2 separate regions of the Homo sapiens genome follow, and region 2 is linked to region 1. Evidence: fine-mapped expression QTL. A gene starts in region 1. The other region holds a variant in brackets. All regions are shown on one strand. Distances are from middle to middle.

Evidence for each region. PIP is the estimated chance that this variant, and not a neighbour inherited with it, causes the effect. A credible set is the group of variants that fine-mapping cannot tell apart.
Region 2: its variant is the best candidate, but not a certain one, in a credible set for the expression of ZMYM4 in whole blood (INTERVAL, PIP 0.87).

The regions. Positions count from the first base shown.
Region 1 is chr1:35,264,828-35,273,171 of GRCh38, forward strand. It overlaps ZMYM4 (zinc finger MYM-type containing 4), which reads left to right and starts at 3,882. Exons shown (of 30, transcript NM_005095.3): 1 at 3,882-4,258. The coding sequence starts at 4,220. RefSeq lists enhancers at 3,572-3,631, 3,652-3,711, 7,981-8,344 and silencers at 3,842-4,201, 4,272-4,401.
Region 2 is chr1:35,399,018-35,407,361 of GRCh38, forward strand. ZMYM4 (zinc finger MYM-type containing 4) reads left to right here. Exons shown (of 30, transcript NM_005095.3): 22 at 1-26; 23 at 465-559; 24 at 6,006-6,177; 25 at 6,356-6,451. Among named protein-coding and RNA genes, the nearest start is that of ZMYM4-AS1, 37 kb to the left of the region's middle. The variant A/ACTTTTTC (reference allele first, on the strand shown) is at 3,815.

The DNA of each region.
Region 1 (8,344 bases):
AATAATTTCTTTTGGAAAGAAACACTGTATCTTTCCTGTGGCTGCCCTCTCCCTCTGAGTGAGTATCTAAAATAACGTCTGCATTTATGAGGCATTATGACTTTGGGGAAGCCTGAGACCTTGAATCTATTCGGAGTCCCTGACCTCTCAGGATGCTCTACAGCCTGTTGTTAAGAGAGTGGAATGTTTTGTAGCCTGGCCTCGCTAAGTTTGCTCAGAGCCTGAAGGCAAACCACACAGCTCTTCCTGAGGTCTGGCTGTTACTACTTTTTGTTCCTGGCCCAGTGTAATTTACAGAGCTACTTCCTCCTATACTTGCCAGCCAGCATTCTTGGCTACTTTCCGTATTCTTCTACAGGGTATGTGGGAACTTCTGGATATCTTCTCTCGCAGGAGCTAAGGACCACTCACTTGCAGAGCTCCGCCCAAAACCCTGTACCTAATTTTGTGTATGTAATTCTGTGTTCTTTTTCTTAAAAACAAAACAAAACAAACAAACAAAAAAACCCTCCCTCTCCCCCCATCATGTAAGCTTCAAGATCTGTAAAACCTGGATTCATCTCTGGCTGAGAGACACTCTGAGGAGCTAAATGCAGACCTGCTCTTTTTTCCCAACTACATCAGGGCATGACTTTTGCTCATATGTGGCTGTCTGCTTGTTGGTATGGGCATAGTCTGCAAGTCATCTCTACTTGGAATCTTAAACAGGAGCAGAGTAAGAATCCTCTCTGCCTTGAAGAGCTGGAATGGGAAGACAGGAGCACATGTCTCTCAATGATGCCTCTCTTACTTTTCTCTTTGTTCTTCTTCTCTCTACCCTTTTATTAAAAGAGTCAGACTTTTCTTTTATTTCCCTATATGCAGCCTCATGGCTTAGCTGTCCTGGATGGAAGGATATTTGGGTGGAAGGCATTTCCTGTGGAGTATGTAAAAACTCTATGAAATTATTATGTGCTGAGCTTCATAGATTAAATGGAACTAAGAAAATTTAGCAAATTCTTTTTCTCTCCATTCTGTTCTCTCCTGATTGGGAAAATAAGTCTCAAGGCTACATTTCAAGCAAGAGTCTATGACAGAAGATGACTTAAGAAAGTTAAAAGAAATCTGTTTGATATTTGCAAGATACTAGCCCCATTATAGTCTAGTTTTTTTTTTTTTTTTTTTTTGAAACAAGTCAGAGCACTGAACTTGTAGGTGAAATATCCCATTTAAAATGTTGATATATGATTTAACTTTTTTTTTTTAAAAAAAAGATAATGGCCGGGCGCGGTGGCTCACGCCTGTAATCCCAGCACTTTGGGAGGCCGAGGCAGGCGGATCACAAGGTCAGGGGATCAAGACCCTCCTGGCTAACACAGTGAAACCCAGTCTGTACTAAAAATACAAAAAGTTAGCCGGGCATGGTGGCGGGTGCCTGTAGTTCCAGCTACTCGGGAGGCTGAGGCAGAAGAATGGTGTGAACCCGGGAGGCGGAGCTTGCAGTGAGCCCAGATCGCGCCACTGCACTCTAGCTCGATGACAGAGTGAGACTCTGTCTCAAAAAATAATAATAATAATAATAATGATACTCATATGGTATTAGGAACCAACAGTGTTCTAGGAGATTTAGAGATGTTAACTAATTTAATCCTCTTGGTGTCCCATTTTACAGATAAGGAAAGTGAGGCACAGGACAATTACCTTGACCAAGATCATATAGCTATACACAATACAAATCAAATGCATTTCTGTGGGACAGATTTGGTCACAAGGCCACCAATTTACAATGTCTACTTTACGATATTTCAAATAAGTCAGAAAGAACAAGGCTTTGAATTCTGACTTGGCCTCTGTGCTGAATGATCTTGGACTAGTCACTTAAGCTCTGTGAATCCTTCTATAAAATTATGATTAACTTTTCAGTGCTCACTAAATGGTTTTCTCTTGTCTTATTCCTCCATATGGATGACTGCCCTGAACATTCATGTTATGCTTGTATATTATCTGAAATGCACAAATCCCACCTATTATTCGAGACCTAACACATTGCTAATACCTCCAGAAACAGTCTGTGTAGGACAGAGCCCTGAGGATCAAGATGTCTGTTTCAGTCTTGATACTGTTACTAATCCTGTGTGTGATCTCAAGCAAATCATATCTTCTCTAAGCCTCAGAGGCTTCATCTTGAAAATGTGGAGTTAGACTAAACTAATAAGTTTAAACTGTGATCTGAGAAACTCAACATTTCTGTAATGATGGGAGGGGGCATGAAAGGAGAGAGAGTGCAAGGGTGAAGCTGGGTGAATAGACTAGTGGGTTCCCCACTTACACTCCCAACTTAGCAGCTCCACATTTTAAACCACCAGATTTTATTAGAAGGGAGTATTCCACTGCCAATAAAACAGGTGGAAACCACTACAAGTTTTATGTAGCCACATTCCCTGGAATTATCTTTTCTTGGCTCCTCTTTTCTTTCTTGTCCTGGACATGGAACTAAAGGGAACATGTTTTTAAAATTCTGGCTGAAATGAACATATTTCTTTGTCCTTCTTTCTTCTCTCCTACCGAGGAGTGAAATTAAAGACAGTGCTAAAGGCATAAGCAAGGCCAGTATGGAAACTTCCAGCAATTTCACCAAAAGTTTTCAGCAAAATATTACAGATTAGAAAACATCTGTTTCAGAATAGCTACCAAGTGCTAAATAAAACAGAAAACAGAAGTTACATCTCATTATCCTGTGACTTCAGGAGTTATCATTCCCACTTGAATATGTCTTGTCATGGGAAATGACCTTCAGGAGGCATCTTCTTTGTATTTCTTACTATATGTCTCCCCACTGTCCCTGAACTATCATTATAAACTTAATTTTTTCTGCACCCAAAGCTTGTGGGAACTAGAATGAACAGAAGAGGAATGAATGAAGCCCTCATTCTTTTCAGCGATTTTCAGCTTAGGACCCAGTTTTGGAACAAGATAGACCCAAATCTACTTCCTGGTTTCCTGCTTAGAAATAAGATGCTTATCCTTTAAGGCAGATTGTCAAGCTCCTTCAATAGAGGTGAATGAGGACACCCATCATCTGCAAATCATTACATCTTCACAAGAGAATTATGATATTCTCCAAATACCATGAAACTTCAATTTTTAATCTTCTAGGGATATCAAATTAAACCAAATTTATCTCTCGCCTGAAGACAGCCTGGAGGACTGAGACTGTAATCTTGATTCCAACTCCACACCAGCCATTAGTTACATTGGGACAAATTCCTTCCCATGATCAGGCTGCAATTTTATCATTGGGAGCACTGGAGTAAATGGTTCCCTAAGATCCTTCTCCATTTTGATGTTCTAAGGATAAATTACTATTGAAGAAATTATTTCCAGTTGTTGGTTCAATCTTCAAAATCACCAAAAGCTTTGATTTTAAGGTGAGGTTATAGGAGTTGGCTCTTGATATTCTATGCCTTGTGCTTCAGAACAGGCAGTCGAAAGGGAGGAAAGTTGGTTTTCCTTGAGATGACTGTCTTGTTCCCTCATTGGTTTGGGATTCTTCATGTTCAGAGGTCCACTGAGAACTTCAGCTTACCATGACTTTCCCTCTTCAATGGTACCACTGTAGTCAGGTGTAAGATGGTGATGTGGAACCCTTCACTGACATTGCACCCAATTCTCCAGATTGTCTTTCCAGTAATTTCTTTCATTTCTCCTTCATCCCTGCGTCATGGTCCCTTTAAGGGAGCGGCCATAGTTGAGTGGTGGGAGCAGCTGCTGGCAGCAAAGAGACTTGCAGGATTTGGCCTACCCATGGCCACTTACCGCGCACGCTCAGGACCGGGGGCTTGGTGGGAAAGGAAGGAGGGACTTAGGGTGCGCCTGCGCATCAGGGGCGCGCGCAAGGGGCTGATTTGGTGATCCCTTTAAGAAACCGCAGGCGGAGGAATTTCTCTGAGAGAAAATAATCCTACTCACGGGGCCCCTTGGAGGCCATTAACCCCCCGAGTCCCGGCCCCCACCCCGTCCCCGGGCAGGCCCTCCCGCCCACGCGCGGACCCGTGGGATCTCAGAAGCTGCGGCCCGGCGCGCGGCATCCGCCCCCTCCCCACTCTCGGCGCAAGGCCCGGCCGGGTCCGGGGAAGCTGCCGCGAGGCGGCCGTGCCTGCAGTGTGGGCGGGGGCCGGGGGGCCGAGAGGTACCGCCGCCACCGCGCGGGGAGCCGCAGCGGTTCCGAGCGGGGCCCAACATGGCGGAGAGAGAGGTGGAGTCCGGCCCCCGAAAGAGGGTAGGTGAGGTGAGGCAGAACTCGGGCGGCGGGGGGCGGGGCGCGGCCCGGGGCCGGGAATGGGCCATACTCAGGTTCGTGGAGGGGTCGCCGAGGCCCAGTTAGGACAAGGTTGCGGGCAGGTCTGAGGCAGCCTTGGGTCCGGAGCGCGCTGGCGAGCGGTCCCTCGGCAGGTGGGACAAAGATTTGGTGCTGGGTGGGGGGGAGGGGAGGGGGCCGTTGTTTGCCTTCCTCCCCCCGACGTTCCCCAGCACTGGGGTGGGATATCTAGGCCCAGGGAGGGGAGGTGTCAGATTCTTAAGTGCATCTTTAGTGCATCTTTAGTACATCAGAGTCTGGAAGTTAACTGGGGAGAGGTCAGGTGGGGGTGGTGGTGGCGGGAATAAGTCGTGGAGGGGTCTCAGGAGAAATAACCGGAGGGTTCTTCAGTAACACCATCGCGAATTCATTTTCCTGCCTCCTTTCCCCTCCCCCCATAGCCGTTATCTAGACCAAAGTCGGGGTGGTGGTCTTACCTGTGAAGAAGTGGGATCGTTGGCATGTCCTGATTTAGGAGAAAGATTTTGGCTACTATGAATGTCATGTTCTAGCCTAGCCTCTTACTCGCAATTAGGGACTTGGAAGAATACGACAAGTTTTCTCATAACAGGGATGTACCCAATCAACCTGCAGAGGTGAAGCCAATTCTACATAGGAGTTGTTTGAATACCTTTTAAAGTTTGTCTGGAAACTTTCCTTATTTAATTCTGAGTGGTTTTTTTCAGATGGCGAACAATACTGTACTATCGATTGAGCAATATCCCTCACTTTTCTTTTACTTCCTCCCCGCTTAGCATGATAAGAAGTAAGTTTCCTTTTAGGAGTCTTCCTTTTGGGAATGGTTTCAGAAACGATCAATTAGCAAAAGGGCAAAAAATTACTACTTTATGAAGAATGCCCTTTCAGCTTAGCGTAAAATTAGTAATCTCGTAATGATGCTACAGCTGATGTTTTGAGTGCTTACTGTGTGCCTGGCACTGAGCTAAGACCTTTATGTGAAGAATTTAACTTCATAGTAACTCCTCCTAGAACCTATTTGCAGATGAGGAAATTTAGGTGTTGAGGGCTTAAGTAATTTACTTAGATCACACAGCTAGTTGCAAGGTTGAGGTAGGATTTGAATCCAGGTTTGTCCCAACTATAGTGCCTGTGTGGGATGCCACAGAGGAGTTTCTTTAATCTGTGTTTCTCTCCTTAAAAGCTTAAATTGTAAATGACCAAAGAAGTGTCAAGTATTATTTTTTCCAACAATTTATTAGGAAAATATTTTGAACTATCCGTCAATATTATAAAACTTACGGGGAGCAGTCATACACCCAACCGCCTAGATCCTACTGTTAACATTGCATTCCGGACATGCACAGCGGCTCACGCCTGTAATCCCAGCACTTTGGGAGGCCGAGGCGGCAGGATCACTTGAGGCCAGGAGTTCGAGACCAGCCTGGCCAACATGGTGAAACCCCGTCTCTACTAAAAATACAAAAAATTAACCCGGCGTGGTGGCGGGTGCCTGTAATCCCAGCTATTCGGGAGGCTGAGGCAGGGGAATCGCTTGAACCTGGGAGGCGGTGGTAGCAGGGAGGCGGTGGTAGCAGTGAGCCGAGATCGTGCTACTGCACTCTAGCCTAGGTGACAGAGGGAGGCACTGTCTCAAAACCCCCTCCAAAAAAAAAATTGCATTCCACTTGTTTTATCATATATTTACCCCTCTATCCCTCTTTCTGTTCATCAGTCGTGTTATTTTAATGCATTTCATCGTAGTGTTTTGAACAATAAATTTTTACCATTGATAAGTTTACGAAATGTTGGATTCACCTAATGCAATAATTAGTCATAGAGCAAGTTAAGCTGTATGATGGTATGTCCAAATAGTTTTGTAAGTATAAATGTTGTGTATGGAATGCATGTGTTTTGAAATTTTAAAATTTTCAAGTTGTGTTCAGTTTTGAACTAGATCCTTACTGTGCTTGGATGAAGGCATATGGCATATAGTCCACCAATGAAAATATACAGGGTAAATTACTTAAGATATGTAATGTTAATTCAGGGAGATTTCTGCATCCAGTTGCTGTGAATGTTGTCATTCACCTTCTGTACTAGGATGTTCTAGGATATTCTAGAAAACATTGATGTGTGTTGACAACAAATTCAACTAGATTTTAAATATATTCTGCCTCTTGTCGTACACTTAAAAGATGTTACTGGTCTTGTGAATCTTCTGCTAAAGGAATGCTGGAAAAAAAAAAAAAGATACCATACTGGTAGCAGTAAAAACTTTATTATTATTATTATTTTTGAGACAGAGTCTTGCTCTGTTGCCCAGGCTAGAGTGCGGTGGCGCAATCTCGGCTCGTTGCAACCTCCGCCTCCCGGGTTCAATTAATTCTCCTGCTTCAGCCTCCCAAGTAGCTGGGATTACAGGCAAGCACCACCATGCCTGGCTAATTTTTGTATTTTTAGTAAAGATGGGATTTTGCCATGTTGGCCAGGCTGATCTCGAACTCCTGACCTCTGGTGATCAGCACACCTCGGCTTCCCAAAGTGCTGGGATTACAGGTGTGAGCTACCGGGCCTGGCCCAAAAGTTAATTTTATTTTTAACAACCTATAACATACGCAGGACTTGTATAGGTTTCCCCCATTATTTTGCCAGTTTCATCACAGAGGAAAATTACATTCATTGATTTTTGGAATTAATGGTGTGGTGGCACATGCTTCTAGTCCTCGCTATTCAGAGGTTGAGGTGGGAGCATTGCTTGAGCCCAGGAGTTGGAGGTTGCAGTGAGCTATGATATTGCCACTGCTCTCCAGCCTGGGTGACAGAGGGAAACCCCCTCTCTAGAAAAAGTAAAAATAATACATAAATAATATTTTTTGATCCATAATTCATTTTGTTTTTGATATTTCATTAGAATGTTCGGTATGATTGTCTTAAATGATATAAGTACTTTTTTCCACTTTTTTTTGGTGTGTGCCAAATTACATGTGGATTCCATATGTATACTCCAAGCCGATTAATGGGGACTATGCAGTACCATGTCTTTGGAAATTGACTGCCTTGAGGGAGTTGAAACAAACTATCCACATAGACTTAGATAGTAACTTTAGGCTATTCAATCTGAAATTGCATTGATGACATGGTATTGTACTTAATGATGCTTACTGCTTTTGACCTTTGTAATCATGTCACAAAAAAGTTGCTAAGCACCTGTGCTATTTCATAAGCTACATGCTAGGCATTGTGCTTTGTTACTTAGGGTCATTTAGGATAATATATGCTGGCTCTCTTGATAAATTGTGAACTCCTTTAACATAGTATCTATTTCATTGCTTTTTGCGTCTGGACATCTTGTGACCTCTACACAGTAGGAACTCAAAAGACTTGCTGACTTATTTTTGTAAGAATAGCTTACCTAGTACAGCAGAGGCTCTATGGGTTGAGTACCAAGTTCTCTGCTTTGTAATTTTGAGGGGCTCTGTAAATCTTTCATAGCGTCCTTTACTCCCCAGAGTTCTCTCCTATGGATCCAGATTTAGGGATCTTCTGATTGTTCTGGATTATGGTTAGATGGGCAGGTGACTGCATTTTTTGTTGTTGTTTTTGAGATGGAGTCTTGCTCTGTCGCCCATGCTGGAGTGCAGTGGCGCTATCTCAGCTCACTGCAAGCTCCGCCTCCCGGGTTCACGCCATTCCTTCGCCTCAGCCTCCCGAGTAGCTGGGACTACAGGCTCCCACCACCATGCCCGGCTAATTTTTTGTTTCTGTATTTTTAGTAGAGACGGGGTTTCACCATGTTAGCCAGGATGGTCTCGATCTCCTGACCTCGTGATCCACCCGCCTCGGCCTCCCAAAGTGCTAGGATTACAGGCGTGAGCCACCACGCCCAGCCGGTGACTGCATTTTAAGACCATTGGGTTAACAACCTTAAATTCTAGGTAGGCCTGCCTGATGTCTTGTTTTTATATTTGTGGGCAGTCGGAACACTTGTATTCAGAATATGCTGGAATGCTAGTCTCTCAATTTGTGAACACGGGGGAGCTGAGTATG
Region 2 (8,344 bases), 130 kb after region 1:
GGACCTGGAAGCAGATTTTCCATCAGGTTTGTGTACAGTAACCTGTCCACTGAAAGCTTTTTATTTTAAAAGATCGGTACAACTCTGAATTGACACTATTAAGCAGTGCCAATTGTTATTGATAATAACAGTGTAATGTGTTAGAGGTCATAATCTAGAGCACAAATAGACCCTGGCTTTGTAGGTGTTAATTCGTACCATATTGTTCTTATAAGTGGTTAATGTGGTTAAAATTTTTTTTAACCTTTCCCGTAGTAGCTATATAAGAGGTTTTCCTGATTGTTAATGAAGTTTTCATTTATGCACTATATCCTTGGTTTAAGTCTATAAGTGGAATCCTTATTTTATCACAAACAAACTAATGAATATAGTGATGATTACCTGATATTTCTTTACTAGTCTAAGTCTTTATTTAAATTTGTGAGTTATTTACCTCATGTTGTCCTTTCTGCTGATTATTATAGACTCCTTTGACCCACTTAATAAAGGACAGGGAATCCAGGCACGTTCCCGAACAAGACGACGACACAGAGATGGCTTCCCCCAACCCAGACGAAGAGTAAGCTGCAGCTTAACTTTTCTAGACTTTTCTTTCCTTCATTCTACAAGCATTATTTAGTTCCTGCTGCTTTCAAAACTCTGTAACAGCCAGAGTCAGGTAGTTCCACATGTTGTTTTGCAACTTTTGTTTTTTGAATTCAAGAACCATATATTTTATTTACATTTCTTTCAGTAGGAACTTTTTTTGTTTCTATAGTTAAGGGTTTTCTTTTATATTGCTTTGTTTACTTTAAAAAACTTTTTATAGTTATTTTTTATGCTTTATCTGTTTGAACAGCCTCTAAATTTAGCTCTTTTTACATGTTATAATACTGAGTACTTTGGGAGGCCAAGGCAGGCGGATCACAAGGTCAGGAGATCGAGACCATCCTGGCTAACATGGTGAAACCCCGTCTCTACTAAAAATACAACAAAATTAGCCAGGTGTGGTGGTGGGCGCCTGTAGTCCCAGCTACTCGGGAGGCTGAGGCAGGAGAATGGCCTGAACCCAGGAGGTGGAGCTTGCAGTGAGCTGAGATCAGGCCACTACACTCCAGCCTGGGTTACAGAGCAAGACTGTCTCAAAAAAAAAAAAAAAAAAGTAATAATAAATAAAAATAAAAAATACTGAGTAGTTCACTATTTTTTTTTTTTTTTTTTTTGAGACGGAGTTTCGCTCTGTCACCCAGGCTGGAGTGCAGTGGCGTGATCTCGGCTCACTGCAAGCTCCACCTCCTGGGTTCAGGCCATTCTCCTGCCTCAGCCTCCCAAGTAGCTGGGACTACAGGTGCCCGCCACCACGCCTGGCTAATTTTTATTGGTATTTTTTAGTAGAGACAGGGTTTCACCATGTTAGCCAGGATGGTCTCGATCTCCTGACCTCGTGATCCACCCGCCTTGGCCTCCCAAAGTGCTGGGATTACAGGCGTGAGCCACCGCGCCCGGCCAGTTCCCTATTTTTATAGTATAGTAAAATAGTGAAGTTCACATGGCTGTTTTTCACATTGACAGGGCTTTCCTATACAAAGTTGAAAGAATAATAGCTTTATTTTTAAAATTAGCCCTATTGTATAATTATATTAAAACATTTTTAAGTTCTGAGTGTACATTTTGATGGCCTTCAACTAATGTATATGTTATGTAATTCCCACCACAATCATGAACAATTCCACTTAGCAAGAAGTTCCACTATGACCTTTTGCAGTCAGCCCCTCTGGCTGCTGACAACCACTGATCTACTGTACCGATTGATGCAGAATGCCACTGCTTTGCCTTTTCTGAAATTTCACATGAATGGAATCCTATAATATGTAGTCTTCTGTGTTTAAGTTCTTTTACTTGGCATAATGTTTTTGAGATTCATCCATGTTATTTCATGTCCCAGTAGTTGATTCCTTTTTATTTCTGAGTAGTATTTCATTACATGGACAAACTACAATTTGTTCAGCTGTTTAACAGGTGATAAAAATTTGGGTTGTTTCCAGATTGGGGCTATTTTGAATAAAACTTACTCAAAATGTTATGAACATCTTAGTATCAATCTTTGTGTGAACATATGTTTTCATTTCTCTTGAGGAAAAAGATCTAGGAATGAGATTGCTAGGTTTTATGCTTATGTGTATTTTTAACTTTGTAAGAAAGCTGCCAGACTGTTTTCCAAAGGAGATGTACCATTTTGCAGTCCCACCAGCAATGTATGAGAGAGTTCCATCTGCTCCATGACTTTGCTAACACTTGGTATTGTTGATTTTTAATTTTAGCCATTCTAGTCAATGTATAGTGGTACCTCATTATGGTTTTAATTTGTTTTTCCCTAATGATTAATGATGTTAAGCATCTTTTCATATATGTATTTGCCATTCATGTGTCTTCTTTGGTAAAGTGTTTATTCACAGTTTTCGCACATTTTTTTCATTTTTTTGTTGGGTTGGTTGTTATCTTGCTGAGTTGTAAGTATTCTTTACTGTGGACATAATTTCTTTATCAAATCAACGTTTGGTCCTATTTTGTTACTTCCTTTTTATTTTCTTAATGATGAGTAGCAGATTTTGATTTTGAGGAAGTCCCTTTTATCAATTTGTTATTTTATGGATTGTGCTTTTTAATACCTCATCTAAAAATTTTTGCCTAACTCATAGTAACTAAGACATTCTCTTACATTTTCTTCTAGAAGTTTTATAGTTTTAACTTTTATGTTTGTGATCTATTTTGAGGTAATTTTTATATATGAGTTGAGACAAGGGTCAAGGTTCATTTTTTGAATATGGACATCCAGTTGTTCCAGCACTGCCCTTGAAAAAGACTATTCATTCCCCATTGAATTACATTGGCAACTCTGTTAAAAGTCAATCATATATGTATCTATCAGTCTGTTTCTGAAACTTTCTATTCTGTTCTATTGACTTATATGTCTATTTTTATACCAGTACCAACTGTCCTGATTACTGTGATTTTACAGTGAGCCTGGAAATTAAGAGTGTAAATCTTCCAGCTTTGTTCTTCTTAAACTTGTCATTTGCATGTCTATATACATTTTGGAATCAACTTGTCAATTTCTTTAAAAAAAAAAAAAAAAAAAAGGCTGCTAGAATTTCAGTTGGGGCTGTCCTGAATCCAGAGGGAGAGAATTGACATTTTAGGAATGTTGAGTCTTCTAATTTGGAAACATGGAATAGTCTGCATTACAAGTCTCATTATATTCTGTTAAGTTTATTTCATAAGTATTTAAGATATTTTGATGCTGTTGTAAATTGTATTATTTTTAAATTTCATTTTTCACTGAGCACAATGACTCACACCTATAATCCTAGTACTTTGGGAGGCTAAGGCAGAAGGATTGTTTGAGCCCAGGAGTTTGAGACCAGCCTGGGCAATGTAGTGAGACCCCATCTCTACTAAAAATTTTAAAAATTAGCTGGGCATGGTGACGCATGCTGGTGGTCCCAGCTACTTGGAGGGCTGAGCTGGGAGAATTGCTTGAGCCTAGGGGGGGTCGAGGCTGCAGTAAGCCCTGATCATGCCACTGCACTCTAGTCTGGGCGACAGAGCGAGACCCTGTCTCAAAAAAAAAGAAAAACAATTTCATTTTTCGTGTTCCTTACTAGTATATAGAAATATAGATAATTTTTTCTTCTATGATATTTATCTTAGAAATAAAAAAAAGAAATATAGGTAATTTTCATGTATTTACTTTGTGTCCTGTGACTTTGCTCAACTAAAATCCTTAGGATTTTCTACCTAGACAATCATATTATCTGTGAATAAAGACAGTTTT[A/ACTTTTTC]CTTTGTAATCTGAATGCATTTTCTTTCCTTCTTTTTCTTGTTTTATTGAACTAGCTAGTATCTTCAGTACAATGTTGAATATTAGTAGTGAGAGCAGACCTTTTTGCCTTATTCCTAACCTTACGGTGAAAAAAGTCTTGCAACAGAAAGTATGATGTTACCTGTAGGTTTCTCATAGGTGGTTTCTATCAGGTTGAAGAAGTTCCCCTTCTCCTTTTAATTTGCTGAAAGTTTTTTAAATCATGATTGGGTATTGAACTTCCTCAGGTGGATTTCTTGCATCTTTTGAGGTGATTATCTGGTTTTCCTTTTTTTAAGTCTGTTAAAATGGTGAAATACATTAATTTTTTCAAATGATTAACCTTCCATTCCTGGGATAAACCCTACTTTTTTCTGTATTTATTATTTTTTTGTGTTGCTGGATTTGGTTTGCTAATATTCTGCGAAGGTTTTTTGTTGTTGTTCTGTTTTGAGACAGAGTCTCACTCTGTTGCCCAGGCTCGAGTGCAATGGCGCGATCTCGGCTCACTGTAACCTCCACCTTCCAGGTTCAAGCAGTTCTCCTGCCTCAGCCTTCCAAGTAGCTGGGATTACAGGTGCCCACCACCATGCCTGGGTAATTTTTGTATTTTTAGTAGAGATGGGGTGTCACCATGTTGGCCAGGCTGGTCTTGAACTCCTGGCCTCAAGTGATCCACCCACCTCGCCCTCCCAAAGTGCTGGGATTACAGGTGTGAGCTGCCATGGCTGGCCCTATGAAGGTTTTGAGTGTCCCTGTTCAAGACATATTTATCTGTACTTTGTGACTGGTTTTGGTATCAGGGTAATGGTGACATTATAAAATTAGTTAATATTTCTTTTTCTTCTATTTGTATAATTTCTTTAACTATGATAGAATTTGTATAATTTCTTTAACTATGATAGAATTTGTATAATTTCTTTAACTATGATAGAATTTAACTATGATGGAATTTAATCCATCTGGGAATAGAGTTTTTGTGGGAGGGTTTTAAGCTATAAATGCTGTTTCTATGGCTATTTAGGTTATCTGTTTCTTCTAGAGTAAGCTTAATTAATCTTTCAAGAAGTTTGTCCATTTCATCTAAGTTGTTTAATTTATTGGCATGAGAGTCACAAGTGATCCACCTGCCTCAGCCTCCCAAAGTGTTGGGATTACAGGCATGAGCCACTGCACCCAGCCTGGGTTTTAATTTGGATTTCCTTTTCTGGTTTTTTGCTTGTTTGTTTTTAGACAGGGTCTCCACTCAGTCACCCAGGCTGGAGTGCAGTGGCGTAATCATGGCTCGCTGCAACCTCAACCTCCTGGGCTCAGGTGATCCTTAAACCTCAGTCTCCCAAGTAGCTGGGACTACAGATGTATGCCACCATGCCTGGCTAATTTTTTAATTTTTTGTAGAGACGGGGTCTTGCCATGTTGCCCAGGCTTATTTCGAACTCCTGGGCTCAGTCTGCCCACTTAGGCCTCCCAGAGTGCTGGCATTACAGGTATGGGCCATTGCACTTGGCCTTCCTTTTCTAGTTTCTTAATATAGAAGCTTAGGTTATAGATTATAGACTTTTTAAAAATTTTCTTATTGAAACATTTTAATACTACAAATGTCCCTTTAAGTACTGCTTTAGTTCCATCACAGAAATTTTGGTAAATTTTATTTTCATTTTCCTTTAAGTTCAAAATGTTTTGTGATTGCATGTGTCCTTTCTTCTTTGACCCATAGAGCTGTTTAATTTATGATTTTGGAGGATTTTTTTGGACATCTATGCATCATTGGTTTCTATTTTAATTTCATTGTAGTTAGATAATTTGTTGAGGCTTGTTTTATAGCACAGAATATGATCTGTTTACATGTTTCATTAAATAGACCTGAGTGGTAATAGTAGTTATTCATACCTCATCAGGTGAGTCTATATCTGGAACATAGTAAATACCCAAATGTTAGTGATTATTACAGTGTGCTCTTCTGCATTTAAACTTTTTCTTTCTTCCTTCCTCATATGGATTGGATTAAATAATCTCTAAAGCCCTTTCTTGCTCTAAGAACTCTGAATCTTTAGGATATAAAACTAAATTCTTTATTCTACAAATGTATACCCTTTCCAGCTTTGAGAACCCTGACTCTTAAAAATCCAAAACTAAATTTTATGTTCTGTAAATTTTTGGAATTCTTACAGGGACGGAAGAAGTCTATAGTGGCTGTGGAGCCCAGGAGTCTTATTCAAGGAGCCTTTCAAGGCTGCTCAGTGTCCGGGATGACACTGAAATACATGTATGGGGTAAATGCTTGGAAGAACTGGGTTCAGTGGAAAAATGCCAAGGAAGAGCAGGGGGATCTAAAATGTGGAGGTAAGTGCACAGCATGAATTGTATCTTGATTTAGGTAGGGGGAAATATACAGATAATCTACTGAAAAGGGATACATTTTAGGTCAAAAACCCCATAAAACTTTGGTTTGGGCTTTACTTAATTTTTTCCGCACTTTTATTTTATTTAAACTTTTCTTTTATGTTTCTCTCCTTGTCAGGGGTTGAACAGGCCTCATCTAGCCCACGTTCTGACCCCTTAGGAAGTACTCAAGACCATGCACTCTCTCAAGAATCCTCAGAGCCAGGCTGTAGAGGTAAAATTTGTTTCTCTCCATTTGGTATGAATTATTTATATTATTATTGCGGATTTAAATTTGTAAATTGAATATTTAAAATTATTTAAAATTTAGAGTATTAAGGTTAGAAAGAGAAATTAATCTTATCCCGTTTTAAGGAGGTTGTTATAAGGGTAAGGTTATGTCTTCTGCTCTTGAGTTTATTATGCAAATATACAGAATTTTGTTTTATTTTTGACACTGTGCAAGTGCCTCAAAATATGTCTTCTTGAGCCCTGCGTCTGTATAGTAATCCATGTGGAGCCCAGTTTTTTTTTTGTTTTTTTTTTTAAGAAAAATACCTGGAAAAGCCTTGCTTCTAATGTAGGAATTTTTCCTTACAGTGAGATCTATGTAACTGACAATGTTTGTGGGTTTCACTTCAGCTGCCAGGAAATTTGGTATTACATGAGCATTTCAAATAAAGCAACAGTGTATAATTTTAAGGCCCACATTAGTTTTCATTTTTCACTACTTTTGACACCCTATTCTAAATTTTTGTTTCACTTTATCTTTTGCTTTTAATTTGTGTTTTATGTAAAATACTTATACAATCTTTATGGAATGAGATGGGGCAGAATGGAGGAGTATATCCATGTAACTTGATTTTATTCCACTTTCCAACTATATCTTCTTTCTGTCTTAAACCTAGGTGATTGTATGCACTCTTGGCTTCACTCCAGTCTACCCTGTTGGTTTTGGGGCACATGTAACTGTCCTTATTGGAGCACTTAGTTGCTGCTGTGGGCAGTGACTAACTCATTGAGTTCCTATAGATGAAATGTAATCTGTCTGCTCCAAAGCTATGTAAATACACTCCTGTTGTGGAGATTTACTAGGCCATTAACTGCCTAGTAGCATGTTTTAAGTTAAAAGAGCAACCTGCTGGGTGCAGTGGCTCATACTTGTAATCCCAGCACTGTAGAAGGCTGAATCAGGAGGATCTCCTAAGCCCAAGAGTTCTGAGGCTGCAGTGAGCTATGATTGCACCACTGCACTCCAGCCTGAGCATCAGAGTGAGACCCTGTCTCTAAAAAAATAAAAATAAAACAAAAAGCCGGGGAAGGGTAATAGTGCAAATGGAGAGGTAATACTGCTTTAGACTACTAAGCCTAAATGCAGCTGTTACAGGGATGGCAACCCATTTCTACCACTCTTTCATTGAGAAATACTTACTGAATATCTCTCTTATATACCAGGTATGAAGCTAGGTACTAGGGTGAAAAAGTCAAACATGGTCGGTGCTCTCATGAGATACGGCTTGCTTTAACTAAAACCCAACTCACAGGAGCCCATGTGTATGTAATCTTATCTCAGTGCAGAAGAGCAATGACTAGAAAGGGTGTTTTAATCTTGGCCCCACAATGTGGATCAACATGTTGTAGTAGGACCTCTACAAATCAAATTGGATAACTCCCCTGCTCAAAATTAATTCAGCTCATTGTCTGCAAAATCTTAATATGAGAAATGAGGCTGATCATGATCTGCTCCCACCTGCCCTTCTTGCCTTGTCCTATACACCCAAGTCCCCTGAACCTTTGCAGCCTGTGACCTAGCAAAGGGAATACTGTATTCTAGCATTTCCAAAGGCAAGAGGGTGTTATTCATTATTTGAGGTGTTCTGTATTCAAATAAATATCAGCTGAAGAAAGTTAAACAGCTGGTCGGGTGTAGTGGCTTATACTTGTAATCCCAGCACTTTGGGAGGCCGAGGCGGGCGGATCACCAGAGGTTGGGAGTTTGAGACCAGCCTGACCAACATGGAGAAACCCCGTCTCTACTAAAAATACAAAATTATCTGGGCATGGTGGTGCACGGCTGACTCCCAGCTACTCAGGAGGCTGAGATAGGAGAATCACTTGAACCCGGCGG